Regions from separate parts of the Homo sapiens genome. Here regions 1 and 3 are each linked to region 2. Evidence: fine-mapped expression QTL. A gene starts in region 2. Each other region holds a variant in brackets. All regions are shown on one strand. Distances are from middle to middle. Region 1 holds the start of PON3 (paraoxonase 3). Region 2 holds the start of PON2 (paraoxonase 2). Region 3 overlaps PON2 (paraoxonase 2).

Region 1 (8,186 bases), 39 kb after region 2:
TATTGCTTCTGTTTCTTGGTCCCCATATCCATAAATACAGCCCTCTTTAGCAGATTCTCCAAGCCTAGACACCTTTCATTTCTCCCTCTCCCTCACCACCCCTTTGCTCATATCCAAACAATTGCCAGTCCCTCCACCTAAACATTTCTCAAATCCATACAATTCTAAGAACTTTGAGAAACAATCTCCTCACCTTCTCCAATCACCCTCACATATCTCACCCAGAAAGGCATCTAACTATCTCCTAGCCTCCAGGAAGGGTAAGTGCTCCACCTGCTCCATAATCCACTCTCATCATTGTGTAGCAATGTTTCTAAAACACCTGCCAAAACATGTTACTTCCAGTGGCTTCCCAATGCCCCTTAGAATATAATTCAGGTTTCTTAACTTGGCCTACAATCTGCCTTCCTCTCCAGATTCAATTCTCACCATCTTCTTCCCAAATCTTTAAGCTCAGTGATTCTCAAAGCATGGTCCCTGGGCCAGCAGCATCAGCATCACCTGCAAACTTGTTAGAGATGCAAATTCTCAAGCCCCACCCCAAATCTAACAAATCTCAAACTCTGGGTCTAGGACTCAGCAATCTCTCTTTTAAGGAGCCCTCCAGGTGATTCTTAGGCCTGCTGAAGTTTGAGAACCACTGCTGTATCCATACTGGACTATTTCTGTTCCAATTCCCCTACTTGCGGATACCCCGACCTCTTTCTGTGAACCTCACCACCCTTTCTCCACTTAATTAACTCCTTCTCCTTGTCATACAATCTGACAAGTTCATGTAATATGTTGAATCTACCTTGAGATGTGTTCCAAACTAGAGTCGCTGAGGGGCTACCAGATATTGATGAAAAATCCCCTGAAGACAGTTAAAGTGGAAGATAAATCTGGAAAGAACCTTCCTGGCAAAGTGTGGCCCCTCAAGGATCCCCCCATTCACTTGGTGCTTACATAGTGAAATGTGAGCCTGCTGGAACCCTGGTGCTCATCCTGCTAAATACACTCAGCGCAGATGATTCCTAGCACACCACAGGTTGCACCTGAAGTCCTGAGTGGGGGAACCTTCCCCATGGTGAGTTGCAGGAAGTCACCAAACAAGGTATCAGACTTTCACTACCTGACTTCATTATTAAGTGCATCTTCAGAATGAAATTGAGAATTTTATTTAAATTCAGATATACCTAAATATTTAATACTTAAATAAGTATAAATTTAAAATAATAAATTTTCTAAATAATAGAAGTCATTTCTTAAAATAATACAAATATCTGGTCCTCTAGCATTTCTCTCTTCTGAGCAGCACTAGACTCATTAATGCCATGTAGTCGTACCCAGGTTTTAAACAGTGGTTTCTATGGCTTAGGACAATGTTTCCTAATGTTCTAAAATCCATATCCTCTTTTTAAAAAACAGCTTTATTGCAATATAATCATAATCTCTTTTGATTTGTTGCTCTTTTTCTCTATCGCCACCTCTTTTTCTTGGCAAGATTCACTGATAGAAACAATCTTTTTAAATTAAAAATGTAGCGATTGTAAACATGATCAAGATATAAAGTTTGAAAATTTTAAACATTACAGAGGGTCGTACAGTAAAAGCAAAGTCTCCTTCCATACTCACTGACCTCCCCACTCTCCACGACCCCAATCTTCTGCTCTCAAAGTAACTACTCTTCAGTTTATGTCTAGATTGTTTATATATATATATATATATACACACACACACACACACACACACACATATGTGGATAATATGTAATTCCCCTAATTTTATACCTTAGAATTATACCACATGTATATTCTGCATCCCCCTTAATGGCATTTTGATTATCAATGGTGTGGGACTCCCTAGATCTATATATAGTATTGTGTTACTTACTGTTTAAACGTATAGCATTGAATTTGGTCTACATTAGCTCTTTGAAAGCCCCACTATACATATAAGGAAAGAAGGGTCCAGAGGTGGTGATAAGTGATTTCAAAAGATTAAAGGGCCAACTACAAATGGAATTGGATCTTGAATTTAGGCCTTTTGAATTTATCTGTCCTGCTCTTTCAAAGTCAACAAACCCCTTTTACAATACTGATGTACCTGTGGCCTCTTGACCAAGTCAATTTGGCCTATTGCCAAGAGCAGATTTAGATGGTGACACTCGATACAGTGGCCTCCAAAGTTTGGAATTCTTTAATGCTAATTTACCATGCTGGGGATTTGAATTACTGATTATGGTATTCGAATAAAAACTAACCACTTCTAGGGTTTAAAGTTAATGTATACACACACACACACACACACACACACACATGCACACACACACACAGAGACTCCTCTGCCTAAAGTGAAGAATTTTTAAACAAATTATAGCTAACACAGAACTTCAATCAATTGCCCAAGAATACGCTTCTTTCTTTACCCCCTTCTTCATGCTATGCTGCAAACACAGTGATAAGGAACATGAGCTCTAGAGTCACCTGATCTGAGTCCAGATGGAGGCACTGACACTTAGTTATGTAACCTTAAGTGAATTATTACTTTACCTCTCTAAGCCTCAAAGCCTCACTTTCCTTCTTTTTAGTCCCATCAAACTTGCAGCAAGCAATTCACTTTACTTCTTTGTAGGTAAGGTTAATAAGAAGTAATGTGACAAGGCATGCAAACGCTGAGTGAAATAATAATATGACTATTATTATTTCATTATTCATTCCATTTATTTTTTATTCTTCTAATTTTTCTTTCTCCCAAGTCCATATTTTACATCCATCCATCTAATCATATTTATTGAGTCATTATTAAGCACAAAGTTCTATGGATGGCACGGGAAAACCCAGTGATCAATGCGATGGAGTCCTTCCCACAGGAGCCTACAATCTCAAGCAAAGTTCAGAATTAATTAGTGGTTAATCTTTACTGACTTCATAAAACGTATCAAGCACAGTGCAGAGCACTTGACACTCATTATCACATTTAATTTTAAGCTACCTATGAGGTGGACGTTCTTTTACAGAAGAGGAATCTGTAGCTCAATAAAGCTGAGTACTTTATCTAGGCTGGATCCAAACCCAGGCAGCCTGACTCCCAAACCCTGCATGCATGTCTACATCACACCCCAGGCCCCTCAGCTCTGTGAGCCCTCCTGACTTCGATTCCTCCTCTGCTTGCACTCTTTTAACATTAGTCATCTTAACAAGAACTCTAATCTATACAATTCAAGACGTTACACTGTCCTTTTAATACAACCCTTCTTCCATAGATTTTCTAGAGGCAGCATGGTAGAGGCAGCTCAGTTAAGGGCCCAGATTTTGGAGTCTGCTGCTTGACAGCTGCCTGACCTACAGCAAGCCACATAAGCAATCTGTGCTGCAGGTCTCACCTGTAAAATTGGGGTAAGGCTACCCACACTCCAGAGATTGTGTTGATAATTAAATGCGTTAACATAGGTGTCAGCACAGGCAAAGCACACAGTCAGTACTGCATAAGCGGTGGGCTTCATTATTCATCCTGTAATTACGTATTCATACTAGAATCATGTATCCCATAGGTCAGGGACCACCTTTTCTTTCCTTAATACCCCCAGGATTGGCAAATCTTGCTCTCTCAACAAATAGTTTACTCGGTGGAACCTAACAGAACTAATATTTCTTTCTGTCCGTAAATAAAAATAGATCATGCTTGAATGTGCTACTTTGCCCGAACTCCCCAAGTCTTCCCGCATCTTCAGTTCCTCCCCCTCCAACCTGGTGTTCATCAGGAGAGGGGAAAGAGCATTTCTTGCCTGGCAGGAACTCAAGACCTAGAAGAAAGAGGGCCTACCCTGCCAAGGAAATGACCTTCCCCTTCCTCGCCTCTGCTCCTCTTCCCGTTTCCTGTCTTTTCCTTCTTTTCTCCTGGTGTTTCCTTCTCCCGTTAACTATGGGGACAGACGCAGCTATTCACAAGTCCGTCTGGGCAGCACACTCCGAGGTAAGGCACGAAGGTCAGGAGACAGGTTCCCGTGCCCCAAATCCTGGAGAAGATGAGTTAAAGCTCTTCGCTTCGATTGCCTTCGCCCTTCCCGCGTCTCGGGAGCAATTCAGTGTCGCCTCACGTCTGGCCTTGCAGAAGTCCGGAGTTCCGGCTCTGAACTGGAGCTCCCCGCCATTCCCGGGCCCTCCGGTTTCTCCCTCAGGCCATCTGAGGAATTGAGGTAGGATTTCGCGGGTGTTAGGAGCAAACTCCCACCACAACTCGGTCCCGGGCTCCCTCTCCGTTGAGCCTTGACCTCTGCCCAAAAAACAAGGAATCGTGGGCGTGAAGGCGGCCTTGAACCCGGGCGGCGGGGCTCGGCGGGACTCGTCAGCGCCCTGCTGCGGCACCCGGGCCGCTCAGGTAAGTAGGAGGCGTGTGCGGGCGGGGCCGAGCGGGCCCCA[A/G]TCCGTACGCGAGGCAGGAACCGCCCGCCGCGCCCCCGAGAGCTCTCGGCGCCGCGCAGTCGCCGCTGGGCACCCCGAGACCATGGGGAAGCTCGTGGCGCTGGTCCTGCTGGGGGTCGGCCTGTCCTTAGTCGGGGAGATGTTCCTGGCGTTTAGGTGAGTGGCATCTTGACAGGGCGTCTTCGACTCTCTTTCTCTCCTCTTCCAAGTGAGGTCAGGGGCTGCCTGGCGCCCCCTTCCTAGCGGGTAGGAAAGAGCAGCTTTGGAACCTCACTCCTCCATCTCACCCAGCAAACCGCCCCTTGAGACTCGCTTATGGGGAAAGTGAGCTACTTGCGTTTCCAAAGACTGCCGAGCCGAATTAGTCCCATTTATTTTTTGAAGGTTATGATCCCCCACTTTGCTTTCTGAAGGTCATGACCCCCTTTTACTTTCTGAACGTGATGACCCCTTTCCCAGCTCGCCCTCAACATTCTGCTTGGGAAAAAAGGACGTCCATTGGAAACGCCGGACTTGGGAGAGAGGATCAGGCTACCAGTTGGATGTTTACGGCTGACTGAGACATTGCCCAGGTCTGGCTAACCATGCAGAAGTACTGGGTTATGGAACCTATCCTAGATTTAAAGAGCTGGCCAGACAGCAGGGCAAACCAGCTGAAACCTGCAGGCGGTAACTGGCATTTTGTAGGCATTTGACCTTTTGAAGTGGAAGATACAATGGTGATAGCCAGCCTAGAAATGTCTCAGGAAAAGTCAATACTGGGCTAGAAAGAAGAACCTTTAAGTGATAATACACATTCATGAGTGGATCGAAAGCCTCTGCTTGCTTTCAGTTGTCTTTGAGTGTTTATGTATTTCTCTTAGTTGAAGCTGGTCTTCTTAGAGGATCACGTCTAGAATCTGTTGAGGTGCCTGGTGCCTATTAGTAATACTTCCAGTTTGAGAGTTTTATTGTTACATTTGCTCCCAGTGCAACCACATGGAGAATCATAAAATAATAGTAATAATAATAAAGTAGATCTAAGGGTATTTTTTTAAATAAATGACTGTAAGATAAGTATTGAGTCTTTCTGAATATACTTTAATAAAAATTTTAAATTATCCCTGATATTAGAAGAATGTGGAAACATTCCTTTTCACTCTGGAAACAAGAAAATTGTGTTGAAAAATAAATCGGCCAATTGTTTAAATTGTGGTTGGTTTAATGAATTTACATACTTGCGGAGTAAGTCAGCATAAAATTTAAAAATTAAAGCAAAAGTGATAGAGTTTGACTATTAGGAGACCCTGTTGAATTTTGGGAAAGCAGTTTGGAAGGAAAAGTTCAAAGGGCAAGACTGTAGGGGATTAAGTGCAGATTTATAACAGACGATACTTTAGAAAATTAGGGCTATTTCGTGCATTTAAATTAATAATATTGTTCAATTACTCATACTATTAAATAGTGTCTTTTATTTGGGCAGCAGAATTTTCCATGTTGAATCATATTATACAGTTTTTCAGCAATAACTGGGTAAGGTTAGCTGATATAGGTAAAATACCCACATAATGTCTACATTATGTAAATAAACATGAAAGGAAGTACCTACTTACTTGTTATGTCATTCATAAATTATGATAAAGATAGTTAACCAACACGAAGATGATTGAAGTCCACATTTAAACATACATTTTGAATGCTGTGCCTTGACTTCCAGGGTTGGGTTTTATCTTCTACAGAGAAAGGGTGAATGCCTCTCGAGAAGTGGAGCCAGTAGAACCTGAAAACTGCCACCTTATTGAGGAACTTGGTATGTATGTGACAGTACCAAGAGGAGCCAGCACAGCTTCTTGGTCGTCATCCACCTGACTGAGCCCTACCAGCTCATTTAATTACCTGTCACTACTTAAGCCCTCCCAGTGGGACATCTGCCCCGTCCACTCTGCCCCATGCAAGGTCTTCAGGGGTGTACTAAATGACATTCTTTGTGGGTTTTTCTCAGCACATTTCCTTACTGACATCTCTCCACATTACCTAAAGAATGTCATTGACCACTCCCTGGTTTTCCCCTCACTGAATGCTTCTCCTTTCCCATCTGTGGTATTTCACTCTCCTCCTTGTCCTCTGTTACCTTTCCTTTTTTTGCTTCTTTCTTCTTTCCTTCCTCCCTCCCTTTCCTTATTGTCATTCCTGGCTTCAAGTGTTATTTTTTTTCAAATAATATGACTCAGCCCCTCCCCTCAAGAACCTCACAGCAGGCTGGGCGCAGTGGCTCACACCTGTAATCCCAGCACTTGGGAGGCCGAGGGGGGCGGATCATGAGGTCAGGAGATCGAGACCATCCTGGCCAACATGGTGAAACCCCATCTCTACTAAAAATATAACAATTAGCCGGGCATGTTGGCGGCGTGTGCCTGTAATCCCAGCTACTCGGAAGGCTGAGGCAGGAGAATCACTTGAACCAGGGAGTCATCGGAGGTTGCAGTGAGCTGAGATCGCGCCACTGTACTCCAGCCTGGCGACAGAGCGAGACTTTGTCTTAAAAAAAATAATAAACGAAGGAACCTCACAGCCTACCTACCTTCTTTTAAAAAAATTCATAAAAAATCCATGGCCCAGTCCCTAACCTTTCAAACTGCAGCCCTTCTTTTTTAGTCAGTTAAAGGGCAGCTCCAGCTCAAACTCTCCCTAAGCTGAAATCTATTTTACATTTCTGTCGTTTTCTCCCTCATCCTCCCACCCACAACCAGCTCTGCTTCTAGACTTTTCCTATGTATGGTACCCCCATTCTCAAAAGATTCAGTTCAAAATCCAGGAACCATTGTTCCCCGCTTGTCCCTCATGCTTCTACGTGAGACATGGGCTAATCTCACCTACTAGTTAATGCCACACCTGCTTATTTGGGCTCCACAGCTCCAATTCTTCCTGACATTGCTAACAGAAAAATAAAATAAAATCAGGCTAGATTGTGTTCCCTGTTCTGGGAATATGTTCTTTCACCTTCTCACCTTTGCTTATGAAATTCCCTCCAAACTTACTGATTCCTCTGTCTCTGCTTACTAAAATCAGCTGCAAAATTCATCTCCTTCCTCTGAACTCTCACAGCACTCTGAAGCTCCGATTCACTTATGACACCTGCCACATGCCTTGTATTATAGCTAGCAGTGTTCTCTCTTTCACTATCAGATTGTAAACTCCCTAGGGCCAAGAACTGTGACTTATTTATTAGAATGTGATGAGATAGCTTATTTTGGGATATGATTTTCTATTTTATTGCTATATTTAAAAATACAGAAAAAGTACCCTTTTGATTTGAGTTTTCTGCCTTTTCTTGCCTCTCAATTTCTAAAAAATAAAGTAATCTGAACCTTGCACTCCCTAGTCTTAGAGGTGGTTTGTGCTAGCAGCTGGAAAGCAGAAGAAACCAAAGAAAACGCCTTTCCTGAATTGTTTTTAAAAACCTGAGCCCCTTCAAGGGATTCTGTTGGAGAAGGGATATGAATATGTGGATATCTTTGAATAATGGGGATCCTTACCCCACTGGCTGACAGCATTCTGGGAGAGGAGCAGGACCTCAGAAGGAATGGTTGCAAGGTATCTTTAGGGACGCTGGACCCTGTGTTCCAGCTAAGGTAAAGACCTTGTGTCAATGCATTACATGGAAGTAGCAGAATTGTCTAAATTAAAGGGACCAGTAACTTTGGCAATGAATAATTCGATGATACGTAGTGTAGAATGAATGCCAGATGGCCTTTCCAAAACATTCTGCTTAGGTTTAGAACCCACCACTTAAAATGATTTCATAAC
Region 2 (8,186 bases):
ACGGTTCATTCATGGAGAACTACAAACAATGCTGCTTTGGACAATGGAAAACGTGCATGCATTTCCTAGAAGAGGATGTAACATGTCTTTACTTTTTCCATAGAGTTCAGCCCATCCAAAGTCAGCCTCACATGGAGGTTGGGGAGTTTTTGTATCTTTCTCTTCCTGCTCCCCTCTTTTCTCCCAGTGTTTTCTTCCTCTCTGTCCTCTTCCCCAGGGTTCAATGGCTCCTGGAAGAGAGGCAGCAAAGCCTATAGCTCTCCAAATAAATAGGCTTGGGTCTCATGGGGACAGGCAAGCCAACTGGCCTAGACGTGAAGTTTACAAAGAGCCCTAAATGTTGACTTTCAACATTATCTCACAATTCATTTATTCATACATCACAAAGATACAGTGACACAACTGAAAAAACTCATTCATTTTAAACTTGAGTTCCATGACTGGACCACTCTTCCTATAGCAAACCAGGAATAAATATTTTTTATGAATTGCATAATTATTTTGTAACTAGCACATTACATTGTATTTTATCTCTGTTTATGAATTTGACCTCTACAAACAAGTTAATATCATTCAACCTATTATTTGAAGATGTTAATTTGTTGAACATAAATATTAAAAAAAAACTTTATGTTTCTGTTATGCCATTTCTTCACTTTTTAATATGTTGGAATTCTCAGAAAACGGCCTGGCTGTGGGGAGGTTTCCTTTACTCTTTGAGAAGCCACGGAGTGAGGCATCTACAAGGCAAATCTTTCTTTTGCTGATAATAACCATCTTTGATAGCATCCCTTCAATGCATTTTTGTTCCCTTTTTAAAACAGAAGTAAGGAGAAGAAGGGATAAAAGGAATATGGAGGGCCGAACTCCCTGTCACATATTATATAAAATTACAATAATCACGAGTCACCTATTTCACAAATTACTGTGAGCGTTACAATTAAGAATACACTGCAAAGAACTTTAAAGAGTTAAAAGTACAATTATGAAAGGCAGTGTGCTCCAGGGACCATTTCAGTCTGTGAACTCTTTGTTTCTGGTCCATGGCTAGTTAAGTATAAAAAATTGAAAGTAAGCATTTAGAAACTGTTACAGAAATTTGACAAAGTAATTTTATGTCTGTTGAACCAAATAATAAAAGATTTGGGCTTGTATTTTGTATGTCTGGTTTTTTTACTTCCTCTTCCAGTAAGTCATTTTCATTGCATTTTACAAAGGCCAAGAAAAACCTGTCCTTCACTGCACATAGTTTGAGAAGCACTGATAAAAGGTATTATTATTTCTGAAATTTTGCTTAAAAAACCACTTAATAACCACTAAATAAGTCAGAAGTCATTATTTGAGAAATACTGTTTCATACCAAGTATAAGGAGTTGCCAGCACACAAGCAAGTTCCAGAACAAGTTTGTTTTGTATTGAGTAACTTGGTTATTTGGTAGTCAGAAACCACTTTCCCCAGGAAACAAACGTAAACCAGGGGTTATGTTCTTGGTGTGGCCTATACATCCTAGTTATCTCAAAAGACAGCTAAACTATACTATACAATGTAACAACCACTATAACATTCTTACAATGGTTTCTGATTTCCAAATTAGAAAATACGTCTCATCTCCATCCCCATGTGAGGAATGACAATTCCAGCCCTAGCATGGTGGTGGGGCTGGGGGTAAAGATGGATACTACTTCTGCAAAAGTTGCTTCAACCGCAACATTCAGAAAGAGAAAGAATATGGGGGTAGAAGATTCCTCACACAGATTATTGGGGGAACTCACTGGTCATGTTAATAAAGTTAAAATAAGGTTTCCATTTCTCTTGATTCTCTGAGGGTGAGCTTAGGTAGGTTTTGGTGGACTTGAAAGTCCTGGCTCATTATCACAAATGCTTCCATGCTAAATCCCAAGGTGTTGTTCCTCCTGACCACCCAGCACCAAGATGGCAAACAGGTTTCATCCTGAACTGAAATCTGTTCCCTAGCTCAGGGATTCTTATTTCCCTTTCGTTGTTGTTTTAAAAAATTGTGAGGACAAGTCTGGGTGTGATGAGACACTTTGCCAAAATCAATTAGTGACGCCTACCATGGGCCAGGGAAGAAAGGAAAGTCAGCACAAAAGCTGGTTTTGGTTGTTGTTGTTGTTTTTGCTATCCTGAGACTAGCCTAAAAGATGTAGACCTCCAACCCTTTAATGTCACCTGGAACCAGGTTGAAGAACATGACTATTAAGAACATGACTTTTTTCTTTTTAAAAAATTGGGAATAGCAAAAGGGAAATAGACAGAGAATAGCATATACTTGGATATTCTTATTTGCCATCTATGTGGTTTCCTCATTTTGCGGAACTTGTGGAAAGACACGGTAGCCTGGCTCCTGACCCAGAATCCATGAGGCATAGTTGTATGTACTTCCCTTGGGGCCTAAGAGATTAAGAGAGAAGCCCAGACAATAGTCCAAGGCCCTCTGCTTTAGGTCTTTCTTCTAAATTCTGATTCTTTAATTTTTTTTTTTTGTTAATTTTAATTTTTTTTTTGTAGAGATGGGTTCTCCCTATGTTGCCCACAATGGTCTTGAACTCCCCGCTTCAAGTGATCCTCCCACCTGGGCCTTTCAAAGTGCTGAGATTATAGGCAAGAGCTACCTTGCCAGGCCTAAATTCTGATTTTGTATCTGAGGCTCTTCTCTTCCTCAATAATTGACACCAAAAATAGTCCTAGAAAGGAGATTCCACCCTTCTCTAAACAGTCATAGCCTTAGCCTATGTCAGAGTTCTTAACCCAGTGGTCCATTGATAGTTCAGAGGAATTAATGACCTTGGATAAGAAAAAAAAAATCTTGATTTCAAATGGAATTTAGCATTTTCTTCAATTACAAAACTAGCAGACAAACCTCAGAAGCATTTGCAGTACTTGTGACTGTTACTAATGGAAATAACAGTTATTTTCATTATTTCATTATAGTTGTTTTCAGTATCATGAAAGAACATTTGCACTCCTCTTTATTTAAAAGAATGTTGCTAGATCTTGTTATTTAATATGTTAAATAATGTTGCACACATTACATTACCACATTACTATAGCAAAAAATTATGTTTTAGATATTTTAACAATTACATTTCAATTGTTGACCTTTAATTTTAAAGCTAAGGCAAAATTAATGTAAGTAGAGAGTTTATTTGGGCCAAGTTTGAGTACTGCAACCCAGGAGTATAGATTCAAGTTTCCCTAAATATACACTCTGATTAGCAGCAGTTACACATAGATTTTTAAGGGGAAGGAAGAGGCAGTTCCTAAATTCCTTGCGTTAAAATAACATAAGCTGTGGATTGGTTATACTTTGTTCTTTGTATCATAAATTCCAGGAATATGAAGATAATGGGTGGGACAGCTACTCGGGAACAAAATGTCTTTAAACAACTGTCCCCAGGCATGGGTATTGGGGCGTGACTGAAGTCCCATACTCATGTCGCTCTGGGCCTGATAAATTTTGCATACCTCACAAAGCTCAGACTGCTCTCAGCTATTTTTTTTCCTTACAATGTAATTGATTTTCTTTGCAATCTATACATTTTATTCATTTATTTAAAATTTTTTTTTCTTCTTTCTTTTTTTCATGAACCGCACAGAGAAAATTTATGCATTTTATTGTAAGCATTTATAAACATTATTCTAAGAAGTTATCCACAGGCTCACCACTGCCAGAAGGGTCCACGACACAAAAAAGGTAATGCCTCATGGGCTTTCAAAGGACAACTTTTTACTTCTCTTTCTACCATCCAGTATAATCCAATATCCTTAGGACTGAAGCAGAGATACACACACACACAGGGAGAGAGGTGTTTGTGCTTTTTTTTTTTTTTTTTTTTTTTGGTGAGAGGCAGGTGGGAAATTGGCATCCACTTTTATTTACTGGTTCTTTATAAAACTGATATTTGTTGAAAATTGTCAAGTGTGACCATTTCTGCCTACATATTGTAGGGTGGCAATTAAATACCGAAAACCATTAGAAGCTTATTTCAGATGTACTCATTTATTGTAATGGTATCAATCTTGATGGGTAAATTTCATTTTACTTTTAAAATTGTATTTTAAATTATTCCTTCATGTTACGGTTGTTAGAGTAAAAACGGAAAAGAAAAAAACTACACTTCTTCCCTTTGAGTTTGGATGAAAAAGACGTGTCTAAGTCCTTAAGTCTGTAGTCTGGAAGTATTAATAGAGGCTGGGCATGGTGGCTCATTCCTGTAATTCTAGCACTTTGGGAGGCTGAGGCAGGAGGATGGCTTGAGTCCAGGAGTTTGAGACCAACCTGGGCAACACAGCAAGACTCGGTCTCCACACACACACACACAGACACACACACAACTTACACACACTTAGCTAGGTGTAACGGTACGTGCCTGCGGTCCCAGCTACTCAGGAGGCTGAGGCTGGAGGGTCCCTTGAGTCCGGGAGGTCCAGACTGCAGTGAGCTATGATTGTGCCAATGTACTCCAGCCTAGGCAACACAGCGAGACCCTGTTAAAAAAAAAAAAAAAAAGTATTACGAGGCACAGGATGTTTATTTATTCGCAACTACGTCCTGTTATAAAAAGTAGTGATTCCAACGTGAAATATTTACACGACGCATCCCGTTACTTTCCCTCCCTTGGCCACCGACCCCCATCCCCAAAAGCTGCTTTCTATGTAAGTTTCTCACTGGAATAGCGAGTGAGAAATGTGTTTGAAGACTAGGGAAACGAGAAAGGTATGCGGGCTGCTAGAGGGTTTCGGGTGGGTTGTTTGAAAAAGGAAGTGAAGGAATTCAAAGTTTCACATCATGAGCCTAATGTAAGGCGTGTCCGGGCCGTCCCGAAGGTATCTGGGGAAATAGGTTTGTGAGGACAAAGACCAGGGCCAGGCCCAGGGCGGAGCCTCCGCGGCCCCGACGCAGGGACTCGGCCTAGGCGGAGGACGGGGCGGAGCGCGGCCGGCACCATCGAGCCGGGAAGATGGCACCGCCCACGGAGCTGCTGGCCAGGCCGGAGCGAGGCAGCGCGCCCGGCTCCCGCGCCATGGGGCGGCTGGTGGCTGTGGGCTTGCTGGGGATCGCGCTGGCGCTCCTGGGCGAGAGGCTTCTGGCACTCAGGTAGGTGGGACTCCCGCGCGCCCCTCCTCGGCGGTCCCCAGGCTCGGGGTGGCCGCGTGGTGCGGGGAGGGCGCAGGCTGGGGGAGGGATTCCTGCGGGACCTGGCCCTGCGGCCGGGGGTGGAGAATTTTTGAATGCTGTCCCTCCCCCAGCTAGTTGAACCCCCATCACCCCGACTCTCCGCTTCTAGTGAAAAAACTAGCAAAGTTTGGAGTGAATCGCGACACTTTCTTGAAAGTTTATAAGCCCTTGCTGCTAACAAAGTTCTCTTCTGCTTAGGCTGACAAGAGAATGCTTTGCAATTACCCAAGGGCCAAACTAGTGGTTTAAATTGAAAACAAAATGACTACTCATGCATTGAAACCTTAACTATGAAGATTTATTTCAGGTCATTGGTGCTGTTTCTCCTTGTTGCCCAAACCAGACCCGTCTTTAATAAAGTTGTTCTCCACCCATTTCTGCATAGTTTGAGAAACTCTTCAGCTGTAGATCAAAGACACTTGAAATATTCAGCTACTGTTCTTACTTCCTATTTATTCACCAGGGAAGCCTGAAGCCAGAATGCCAGACAGCGCAGACACTATTCCATCTCGCATTTTAGTTTTAATGAAAATCTCTGGTAGGTAGACATCATCGTTTATAAATTACCAACTCAACGTTTGTTTTTTGTTTATTTTATTTTTTGTAGAGATGGGGTCTTGCTGTATTGCCCAGGCTGTTCCCTAACTCTTGCACTCAAGCAATCCTCCAGCCTAGGCCTCCCCACAGTGCTGGGATTACAGGTGTGAGCTGTTCTGCCCTGCCTCAACCAAAATTTTATAGGCCTCATGCAAAAGAGTTCCAGAAAGACTGAGCACCTGCTATGTGTAATGTTCTCTCTTAGGCTTCTATAGTAGAGTACGACCCTTATGGAGTTTGATACAGGGGAAGAGAGAATTAAAATACAGTAAATGTATAAATTAGGATGTTCTAAGGACAGACACAAATGAACCGCATAGGCTTAAAGAGGAAAGATTCCATCCCCTGAGGGTGGAGTTCTAGAGGGAGGAAGAGACATTCGACCTGACCTTGAAGGGTGGGTGCAACACATATGAGCATGAAGGGGCCCATGCCAAATGTATAGTGCAGCAGGAGCAAAGGGGCTAAGGTGGGAAGTTGGAAGACTAGCAAATGGGCCAATTTGAAGGGAGCATAAAGTCAGGAGATGAGAATAGTAGGGTGGTGGGAAGGATAGGTTTTGAGGCCATTAAATATAAGTTGAAAAATGGGGCCCCACTTTCATAGGCCCAATAGTGCTTCAAAAGGGAAATATTGGTGGGTTTTGCTTTTCAACAAGAACTTAATATAACTAGTTGTGTTTTATAGAGATAAGCCTGGAAGGGGGGATTGGAGGAGAGCAATGGTTCTCTGTACATTAGAATCTCCTGGAGGGCTGGTGTCTGAGTGGCACCACCAAAGATTCTGATTCAGCTGTTCTGGATCAGAATCTACAGCTCACACCTGTAATCCCAGCACTGTTGGAGGCCTAAGCCAGAAGATTGCTTGAGCCCAGGAGTTAGTGACAGGCCTGGGCAACATAGCAAGATCCCACCTCTACAAAATGAATAAATAAATAAATAAATAAATAAAAAACAAAATTTGAGTTGGTAATTTATAAACTATGGTGTCTACCTACCAGAGATTTTTCGTTATAATTAAAATGTGATATGGAATAATGTATTGTTTGGCAAGCTGGCTTCAGGGTTCCCAGGTAAATAGATAAATAAGGAAGTGCATAATGTAAGAACAGTGGCTGACAGTAGCAGTGGCATTTTTTATTTTTAAAAACATTCCTGATAATTCTAATGAGCAGTCAAGGTCGAGAACTACTAGAATAGAGAGCAGACATGGGGTAACTGGTTAAGGTATTGCAGTAGGTCAGAGAGGATAACAGGGACCCAAACTCTGGAACCCCAGGGATGAGGGAGAAGTCAAAGGTGCTACCAGAGTTTGTGCCACAGCTCCACTGTCCCATGGTTGTAGTTTCATCTACTGATAAAGCAGTGCAAAGAGGAAGCGTGTGGTGGCTGAGATGGGAGTGAGATTTGAGGAAAGAACGCTTATGGGTAGGAAATGGACATGTTGACCTTAATTTTCATGTTAGGTAATGCCCATTGTGCTCTACAGAACATTCATGAGTTGGATGACTTTGTATATGATCTGTCCTGCTCTCCATTTCAAAGGCAAGACCACCAAAATTCACAAGCTTATTATGTTGTCACTAATGTGTAAGCCACCAGTTTTTCTGCAAGTTGGAAGTTTTCTCAACAGTCAAATATTCCCCCTTCTCACTAATCTTAAGGTTTTAAAGTTATAGCTGCAAATCTAAAAAAAAAAGAAAAAGTAAATAAAACTTATTGACAGAATGCCTGATAGTTTATTTACAGGTTTTTGTTTGTTTGTTTTTTGTTTTTCTTTGTTTTTTATTTTGACACAAGGTCTTGCTCTGCCGCCCAAGCCAGAGTACAGTGGTACATCAAAGCTCACTGCAATCTCAAACACCTAGGCACAAGCAGTCCTCCCTCCTCAGCCTCCTGAGTAGCTGGGACTACAGATGCATGCTACCATGCCCAGCTAGTATTTTTATTTCTTGCAGAGACAGGGTCTCACTTTGTTGCCCAGGCTAATCTCAAACTCCCAGCCTCAAGTGATGCTCCTGCCTCAGCCTCCCAAAGTGGTAGGATTATACACATGAGCCACCACCCTCGGCCTACTTTACAATTTGATGCACCTTTTCTTTACGTGACTGTGATGCACTTTAATGGGCAGTGACTTTATAAAATGGTAACTTTATTGGATATGTGGAGCCCCAAATGGGCTGACGTGAGAATGTTGGGGTAGGTGGTGGGTGGCTGGATTTAGCAAAGAAAAATGTAGGCTACCCAGTTAACTTTGAATTTCACATGGATTTTTTTTTTTTTTTTTAGTATAAGCATGAAATACTTATACCATACTTTTAGCATTAAGCGTGGAATTTGGGACATAATTATACTAAAATATCATTCATTGTTTATCTCAAATTAAAAT
Region 3 (8,186 bases), 24 kb after region 2:
GTTCAAGCAATTCTTTTGCCTCAGCCTCCCGAGTAGCTGGGATTACAGGCGCCCGCCACCATGCCCGGCTAATTTTTGTATTTTTAGTAGAGATGGGGTTTCGCCGTGTTGGCCAGGCTGGTCTCAAACACCTGACCTCAGGTGATCGCCTGCCTCAGCCTCCCAAAGTGCTGGCATTACGGGAGTGAGCCACCACGCCCAGCGCAATCTGTGTTTTAAATGTGCACTATTAAGAGGGATATTTGAGGTCTTACTGTGGATACTCAATACTAACATTATACTATTTTAAATACAGCATCTACTCATCTTTCTATTACTATTCAACTTGAAGCAAATATTCTTGCCATTATTATTTATTTTCAAATATTATACCAACCTTGCCCTTTTGCTTTCTTTCTTTTTTCCCCTGAATAGCCAATCATAAGTGGAAAGTCATTGAGTTTATTTACACCCTTCATTTTGCCTTGATTCTTGTAAGCTGAAAAACAATATCCTTTCTGGGTATACAATAGAAAGACTTTAAAAACAATTGGCTTGTGAATATTGTTGTGAATATTGTTGAAACTAGCTTGTAACAATGTCCATTCTAATTGGAAATCCAGATAAGGGGACAGATGAGGAGGTTCTGACCACCTACCTCCCTGGCTTGGGCAGACATAGGAGTTCTTGGCATCTTCATAGGTCCAGTTTTTCTGGAGGAAGAAGTAACCAACTCTGACACCTGACTGTAATTATTCCATTTCCTCTCAACATCCATTATTTTCAGGCTCTGAGACTCAAGAGGGATGTGAAATACTGGGAGATACTTAGAAGGGAGTCACCACACTAATAAAATAGTTGTTAGACTTATGAGAAAGGTGAGAGAACTCAGGTTGGAGTAGAATGAGAATTAGAACACTCTTCAGGTTCCTGATGGTTTTTATGTGAAAGACAGTGAGCAGCTGGTTATTACCACTGAGGCAATAAAGAGATACTGTGGGCTTTAGCAGAAACACCAGTATATGTATTTAGTTTTTAAAATAAGGTTTTAAAAGGAATGTTTTATTTAATTGCCTACACAGAATGAATAAAGTGATATTTATAGTAGGACTCTGGGTTTGTTTAGGAGCACATGCTTGCACATGTGTGGCTTAGGAAAAACCACTGGGACCACTAGTCTAAAATATTCATAAGTAAAGATGCAAACATTCTGAATAAAGTAGAAGGCAGTTGCATTGATTTTTTTATTTGTTTATTTGTGTTTTTTGTTGTTGTTTTGCAAGGATGTGTTCTTGGAGATTTTTATAATCTAGAATTCACCTATTTCAAGATTTCTCTCCAGCCCCCATAGTAATAAATCTGAAGTAGGAGGGATGAGGTCTCCAAACACATAAATCTACAGCCATTTTAGCTTGGGGGCATGTTATAGTTACAAAGATCTTATAGCCATATCAATAGAACTTTTTCTGCTTTTTTTCTGTTACCCTCCTTTGCTCATTTGACTTTTTTTAAAATTTAGAAACATTCCCAGTTTGCTGCTGTTTTTCATTTACTTGGCATTGTCTCTAATAAAACCTAGAGTGTACTCTCTTCTAAATAAAGAGGTCCTACATTGTGGAGGTTGTTCATTCTTCTTCCTAGCATTTTAGCTCATCTAACCCAACCTATTTTACAGTTATGGGTTGAGGGTCACCTCAAAACTAATGTCACACTTCATGAAGAATTGGATGACATAGAATAAAATATAAAAAATGTAAACAATGTGAGTGTGCTTAACACCACTGAACTGTACACTTAAAAATGGTGAAAGTGATGAATGTTGTATGTATTTTATCATAATTAAAAATAAATTTTTAAAAAGAGAAAAAATACTTAAATAAATAAGGAGTGCGAACATAACCATGACTAGTTATCACCATCTGATAGTGCTTCCTTTGCATGTAAATCATGCTTTTGTTTTGGGGACATTCATAAAGAATAGGGATTAACTGAAGTGGCACTGCCATGTAACAATAGCATAATTCCAGTTTGTTCTACTTACCAGGCTTGCCCTCCATGAAAATATACAATTGTAGATAATCTTTTTTAATTGGAGAGATTTCCTCTTATGTCCAATTTTATACATAAAGTAAGACTTTTTTATTGTGTGCCTAAATTTGTGTAAATATGACTGCATCGTATTAGTAAACTGAATTAGGTAGTGCATTCACATAAAATTTAACATCACCAAGAAGGCTTTACCTTAAGAATGTAATGATGAATCACCATTTTAGATAGACTGATAGGTAATTTATTAACTGATTTAAAAGAGAAAAGACCTATATCATCTCAGTGAGTACCAAAAAGCATTTAATAAAATTCAATACTCATTCCTAAAGTTCCAAGCAAACTAGAAAGATAAGGAAAATTCCCACAAAACTACAGCAAACATCATTCTTGATGGTGAAGCATTGGCTGCATTTGCATTAATGCTCAGAACAGGAAGAAAATACCCAACACCACAACCATCAGTAATCTACTAGAGTTCTTAGTAATTCAGTAAAACGAGAAAAAGAAATGTGAGATAGAAAAGAAAAAGACAAAACTGTCATTAGAGAAGCAGGGACTGGCTCAATTGCCCAGGCTGATGTGCAGTAGTGCAATCATAGCTCACTGCAGCCTGAACTCCTAAACTCCTGCGCTCAAGAGGTCCTTCCACCTCAGCCTTCCGAGCAGCTAGGACTACAAGTGCTCACCATAACACTCAGCTAATTTTTTTTTTTTTTTTTTTTTTTTTTTTTGTAGAGACAGAGTCTTGCTATGTTGCCCAGGCTGGTCTCAAACTGCTGGCCTCAAGCAGTCCTCCCACGTCAGCCTCCCAAAGTGCTGGAATTATAGGCATGAGCCACCAGGCCTGACCTAAAGCTGTAGTAATTTAAAAAGTGTTATATTGGCACAGGAATAGACATGAGACATTAAAATAACAAAACAGAGAGTCCCTAAATAGACCAATATGTAAATGTCAGAGATCTAGCACATGATAAAGGTGATATTTTGAATCAGTGGGAGAAGGATGGACTGTATGCCAGGCACTGTTCCAGGCACTGGGATCTAGCAGTGAACAAATTTCCACAGTCAGTATGTAGATGTCACTTTTCTCCACCCTCAGCTCTCCCTGGAATCACCTAGTCCACCAACCTTCTGATTACTCTCTGAAGAGAATAAATCCCTGATCTTCTTTTCAGTTATTTTCAGGCTTTCAGTATTCCACCTCCCCGTTATTATTTTTTCTGTTATCTTTTCTCTGTTTTTTGAGTTTTTGTGGCTTTATGCCACTACTTTAACCACAATCTCTATTTATCCTTCATGTACAGTTCCCATGTTAGTCCATAAAAATACTTAAGCTTTTGTATTTAACATTTTTCACCGTTTTGGAAAGGGTCTAAAATTCCCAGGACTCCACAGCTTTGCACCAGATAAGCCTGGAGGAATACTAATGATGGATCTAAAAGAAGAAAAACCA[AG/G]GGCACGGGAATTAAGAATCAGTCGTGGGTTTGATTTGGCCTCATTCAATCCACATGGCATCAGCACTTTCATAGACAACGGTAAGAGCCAATGGGCTACCAACATTTAGTAACGTGTGATGGTTCACAAATGACTGTGAAAAATAGATTTGGATCATATTTCTAGGAAGAGAAGAACAATTAACTCATGAGTGATTTCTGTATTCTTCATTACAAAGAACTTGTTCATTTGCCTCTTCAGCTGGCAGTAAGTTATGCTACATTTTGAAATTCCTAACAGGTAACACCTGAAAGAATGTTTAGATTTCATAATCTTTTCATATACCTACGATCATCACATTTAAAAAAGAACTGTATTTTTGAATTAAAGTAGAAACAGATTATGCATGAATTCTGTATATGGAGTAGGAAACACTTTCTTAAAGGTCAGGGAGCCAATGATCAGAAATAACACCAGACGGACAGCAATAGGAAAGACAGAGAATGATCTGTTAGGTCGTCTAACAGCTTATACATTCAACCTTTCCTTGCCTGTGGTATTTAAATGTCAGTGCCTGCCCAGAGGTCCCGTAGTTATGTCTTGTAAATTAACTCTGTTCTTTCAATTCTTTAGATGACACAGTTTATCTCTTTGTTGTAAACCACCCAGAATTCAAGAATACAGTGGAAATTTTTAAATTTGAAGAAGCAGAAAATTCTCTGTTGCATCTGAAAACAGTCAAACATGAGCTTCTTCCAAGGTACTTCCTCATTTTGTTCCTTCTCTAATTTATCCCCAGCATTTGCAAACAATCCCTATGGTGGGTTGTCCTGTCATCTTTTATAAGCGCTAATGTATATATTAGCTAATATGTAAGAGCTAAAGAGCTTATATTTCCTTATTTATAAATGTGTGTGTATAGTTTCCTTATAAACCAGGGCAAGCATGGCATATGAAAGTTGATGTCACTCATACTATTCACTGTTCTATGCGGACTCCTTTGAGAAATGATGAAGTGCCCGACTACAGGGTGATACTCTTCAGGCCCATCTTGAGGGTAGAAGGCAAACCCTAACATTTTTTCCTGCTGTCACCCTCCATCTTAGATGACTCATCACCCAGATGAGTGTCTTGCCAAGGAAGAATGGCCTGTTTTTTATTGGGTTTGTATGCTTTGCATGGGACTTTATACCAATCGCTTTCATAGGGTTAGTGATGGTTGCATGCTAGTAATCCCACAGAATTAGAGCCACTCAAGTTGAGAGTGAGTCATTACACTTCAAGAACATAAAGCTGGTTGAAAATGTGGCTAAGAGAGAATCATGTGTACCCCCACCCCCAGTTCAGTGTGTATTAGCCTACTGCTTCTTTTAGTTTAAACTTGATGAATATTTTTAATTTCTAATGAAATTTCATTTCTAATGAAATTAAAAATATTGCCTATCTAGGGCCTATCTATGCCTATCTAGGGCATAAGCATGTAACTTCCAATCATTCCTTCCAAAAATGCACTTGATAAAAAAAAATAGGAGCATAAATACCATCCAAGCATTATGGTGCTCTTTCAGAAAAATGAGACCTACCTTCCCTGTAGCTCTATATTTTTCATTTAGCAAAGAATAAAGCAGCTCTTTCAGAAATTTTTGCATAGAGTAATTGGAATTTAAATTTAATAACACCCTCACCTAACTGGTCTTAAAATGAAATTGTTTTTAGCATATAAATCTCTCACCTGAAGCATTGTACTATGGCAATTTTATCATCCATCTCTCTGCAAGTGTTTATTGAGTGCCTGTTCATTCTCGGCATGTCAGCTTTGTGAAGCAGGTAGAAATTGAACAGTCAACCTTAGTTTGACTAATAACTAAGCCAGGGAAATTAGAAAAATCCAGGAACTGAGTAAATGGAAGCTAGGTAAATGTTACTGACTGCCTAACCAGCTCACCAGCCAATCAGGCTCTCTCCAGCTCTGTACTGTGGACAGCTCTGTCCTTACGTATAATTGTTAAACCCTACATTTCTTGCTGTCAAAAAACATGCCCTGATGGCACTAAGTTCTTTCTTCTCTTATGGTAATCCTGCCATAATTGCTAAATGACCTGTGTTCAGATTACCTGGTACCATACAAAATTGTTCTCTGGCAACAATATTATAGTATATTGTATATGACTATAGTCGTGATTTTTAGCTCGTCTTTTCCTCTTACCAAAAATTTAAAGCACATGTTGCATAAATCTTATGAGTACTTAATATTTAATATGGAGACCAACAGGCCTTTTGTTTCCTCTCACATGCTATTTTTCTTTTTCAGTGTGAATGACATCACAGCTGTTGGACCGGCACATTTCTATGCCACAAATGACCACTACTTCTCTGATCCTTTCTTAAAGTATTTAGAAACATACTTGAACTTACACTGGGCAAATGTTGTTTACTACAGTCCAAATGAAGTTAAAGTGGTAGCAGAAGGATTTGATTCAGCAAATGGGATCAATATTTCACCTGATGATAAGTATGGCCCCTTATAGAATATCTTCATTTTTCTTCAGTTGTGGTGCTGGCCAAATTCTTTACTTTGCTTTCTTTGTCAATGTGAAAATAGTTTTCTTGACATTTATGGTATATTATACATATAATATATAGATACACTATATATATAATTATATATGTTTTGTATATATATTTACATATACTTAGTCACATGTATTTATATGCAAATACAATACCATATTTAAGTAAACTATATAATACAGTAATATATATGTATTTATATATAATATATAAAGTTTGGAATACATCATTGTCAAATTTAATTTTATAAATATAAATTTTAAAGTGTGATCATACTGATGCATACATATTGAAGTATCAGGTATTTCCTTTTAAATAAATGTATTATTTTTATTGGCTATACATTATTCCATTATAAGGATGATCTTAAACTAATTTAACCAATTCTCTATTGATGGATATGTGTATAGGGGTGGGGAGTTCTACATAAAAAATATTTTATACTTCTTATTTACCATGGAATTTTAAACAAGTATTTTTTTTAAAGAAAAAGTCCCTAGGAGAGTGTTTTTTTTTTGTTTTGTTTTTTGGAGATGGAGTCTCACTCCGTCGCCCAGGCTGGAGTGCAATGGCATGATCTCAGCTCACCTCAACCTCCGCCTCCTGGGTTCAAGTGATTCTCCTGCCTCAGCCTCCCAAGTAGCTGGGATTATAGGCATGCGCCACCATGCTTGGCTAATTTTGTATTTTTAGTAGAGATGAGGTTTCTCCATGTTGGTCAGGCTAGTCTTGAACCTCCAACCTCAGGTGATCCGCCCACCTCAGCCTCCCGAAGTGCTGGGATTACAGGCATATGCCACCACACCTGGCTCTAAGAGAGTATTATAACATAATGGTTAAACTTGCAGATTTTGGACTCATACAGGCCTGGGTTCAAATCCCACCCAGGGCACTGGCTAAATGGTTCTATGAGCTACTTTTCTGTAGAACAGACCCCTAGAAATAGAACTATTTGCTCAAACAGTGTGATTCTTTTAAATGTTAACTTTAATAGATATTGCCAAATTGTCCTCCAGAATTATCTCATTATTTTTATATGCACAACCACAACCTATAAGAGAAGATATTAAATTCTTGATAGCTTTCTTATCTACTGCCTCAGCACACTGAAAAATTTAAACTACTACAAATACAACATAAAATAAATTTGGCACTCCTTGACAACTAAATGCCCTTATTTTTGTAATCCAATTTCTCCTCCTTTCTTGTTGACTATAGAAAAAGAATGTAGAATCATTTAATTTAAATTGTCTCTAACTGACCTGATCCAACCTCTGCAGCCAAATCTGTTTTTCACTCTTATATTTCCATTATGAGAGTCAAACTTTCCAATCACCCAAGCTAACAAAAAAATAACAATAATGAAAAGGGAGAATCAGCTTTTACTCCTCTTTCACCATTCCTATCCAGCCTGTAGGCAGGTCCTGTTGGTTCTACCTGTGCCTCCTTCCTCTACCCCCAAACTCCTTTCCCTTTGAGTGAGACCTGCCTAATTTAGGTTGTCATCCTCTCTGACTAGCATATGAGACTTTCTTCCAATTTGTTTTCTGTCTACTTGGATTTTTTTCACTCTTGCCAATTTTGTCTGTCTATCTCTATTAGCCTTGAAGGGCTCCCCAAAGAGGGAACTCTGTCTTCCTCACCTTTGACTCCTTATGCCAGTACAGTGCCAGGCACAAAGCAAATGCTCAGGAATTGTGGAACAGAACTGACCATTTGTTGCCACTTTATTATTCTAAGATTTCAGTGGAATCCAATTGCTTATCAAATCAAGGCAGGGTAAAGGGTTGGACTTTGTTTAACAGGCCACCTCCAACCTCCCTTTTCTACTATTTCCATGCTTTCTATGCTTTAGACAAAGAACTCATTGTTTTAAACATTCCTTCCTCTTCTTGCTCCTGTGATTCTGCTCTTGTGCTTGCTTCTGCCTGGGAAGTGCCTCCTCCGTCCTCATCTCAAATCTCATCTCTCTTTACACAGCCACTGCAGATGCCCCTTCCTTGGTGAGCCTTTCTGTGTCCTCGGAAGTTAGCTATTTCTAGACCTGAACTATTTCTCATGCTTATTAGGTGTTTAATGTGTACAAACCAGTGAGATTTGTTCCAACACACTATAAACTTTCAAGGAGAGAGGCTGTGTCTTCTTCATGTTTA

Evidence for each region.
Region 1: its variant is fine-mapped to the expression of PON2 in unexposed skin (GTEx, PIP 0.95).
Region 3: its variant is fine-mapped to the expression of PON2 in whole blood (TOPMed, PIP above 0.99).

The regions. Positions count from the first base shown.
Region 1 is chr7:95,392,647-95,400,832 of GRCh38, reverse strand. PON3 (paraoxonase 3) reads left to right here and starts at 4,458. Exons shown (of 9, transcript NM_000940.3): 1 at 4,458-4,556; 2 at 6,119-6,189. The coding sequence starts at 4,483. It overlaps LOC107986822 (a long non-coding RNA gene), which reads right to left and starts at 4,361. Exons shown (of 2, transcript XR_007060439.1): 1 at 3,805-4,361. The variant A/G (reference allele first, on the strand shown) is at 4,401.
Region 2 is chr7:95,431,812-95,439,997 of GRCh38, reverse strand. PON2 (paraoxonase 2) reads left to right here and starts at 4,970. Exons shown (of 9, transcript NM_000305.3): 1 at 4,970-5,120. The coding sequence starts at 5,047. RefSeq lists an enhancer at 4,613-5,183 and a silencer at 4,858-5,287.
Region 3 is chr7:95,407,689-95,415,874 of GRCh38, reverse strand. PON2 (paraoxonase 2) reads left to right here. Exons shown (of 9, transcript NM_000305.3): 4 at 3,398-3,563; 5 at 4,096-4,222; 6 at 5,774-5,974. All of the region lies in intron 1 of LOC107986822 (a long non-coding RNA gene), which reads right to left. Among named protein-coding and RNA genes, the nearest start is that of PON3, 15 kb to the right of the region's middle. The variant AG/G (reference allele first, on the strand shown) is at 3,482.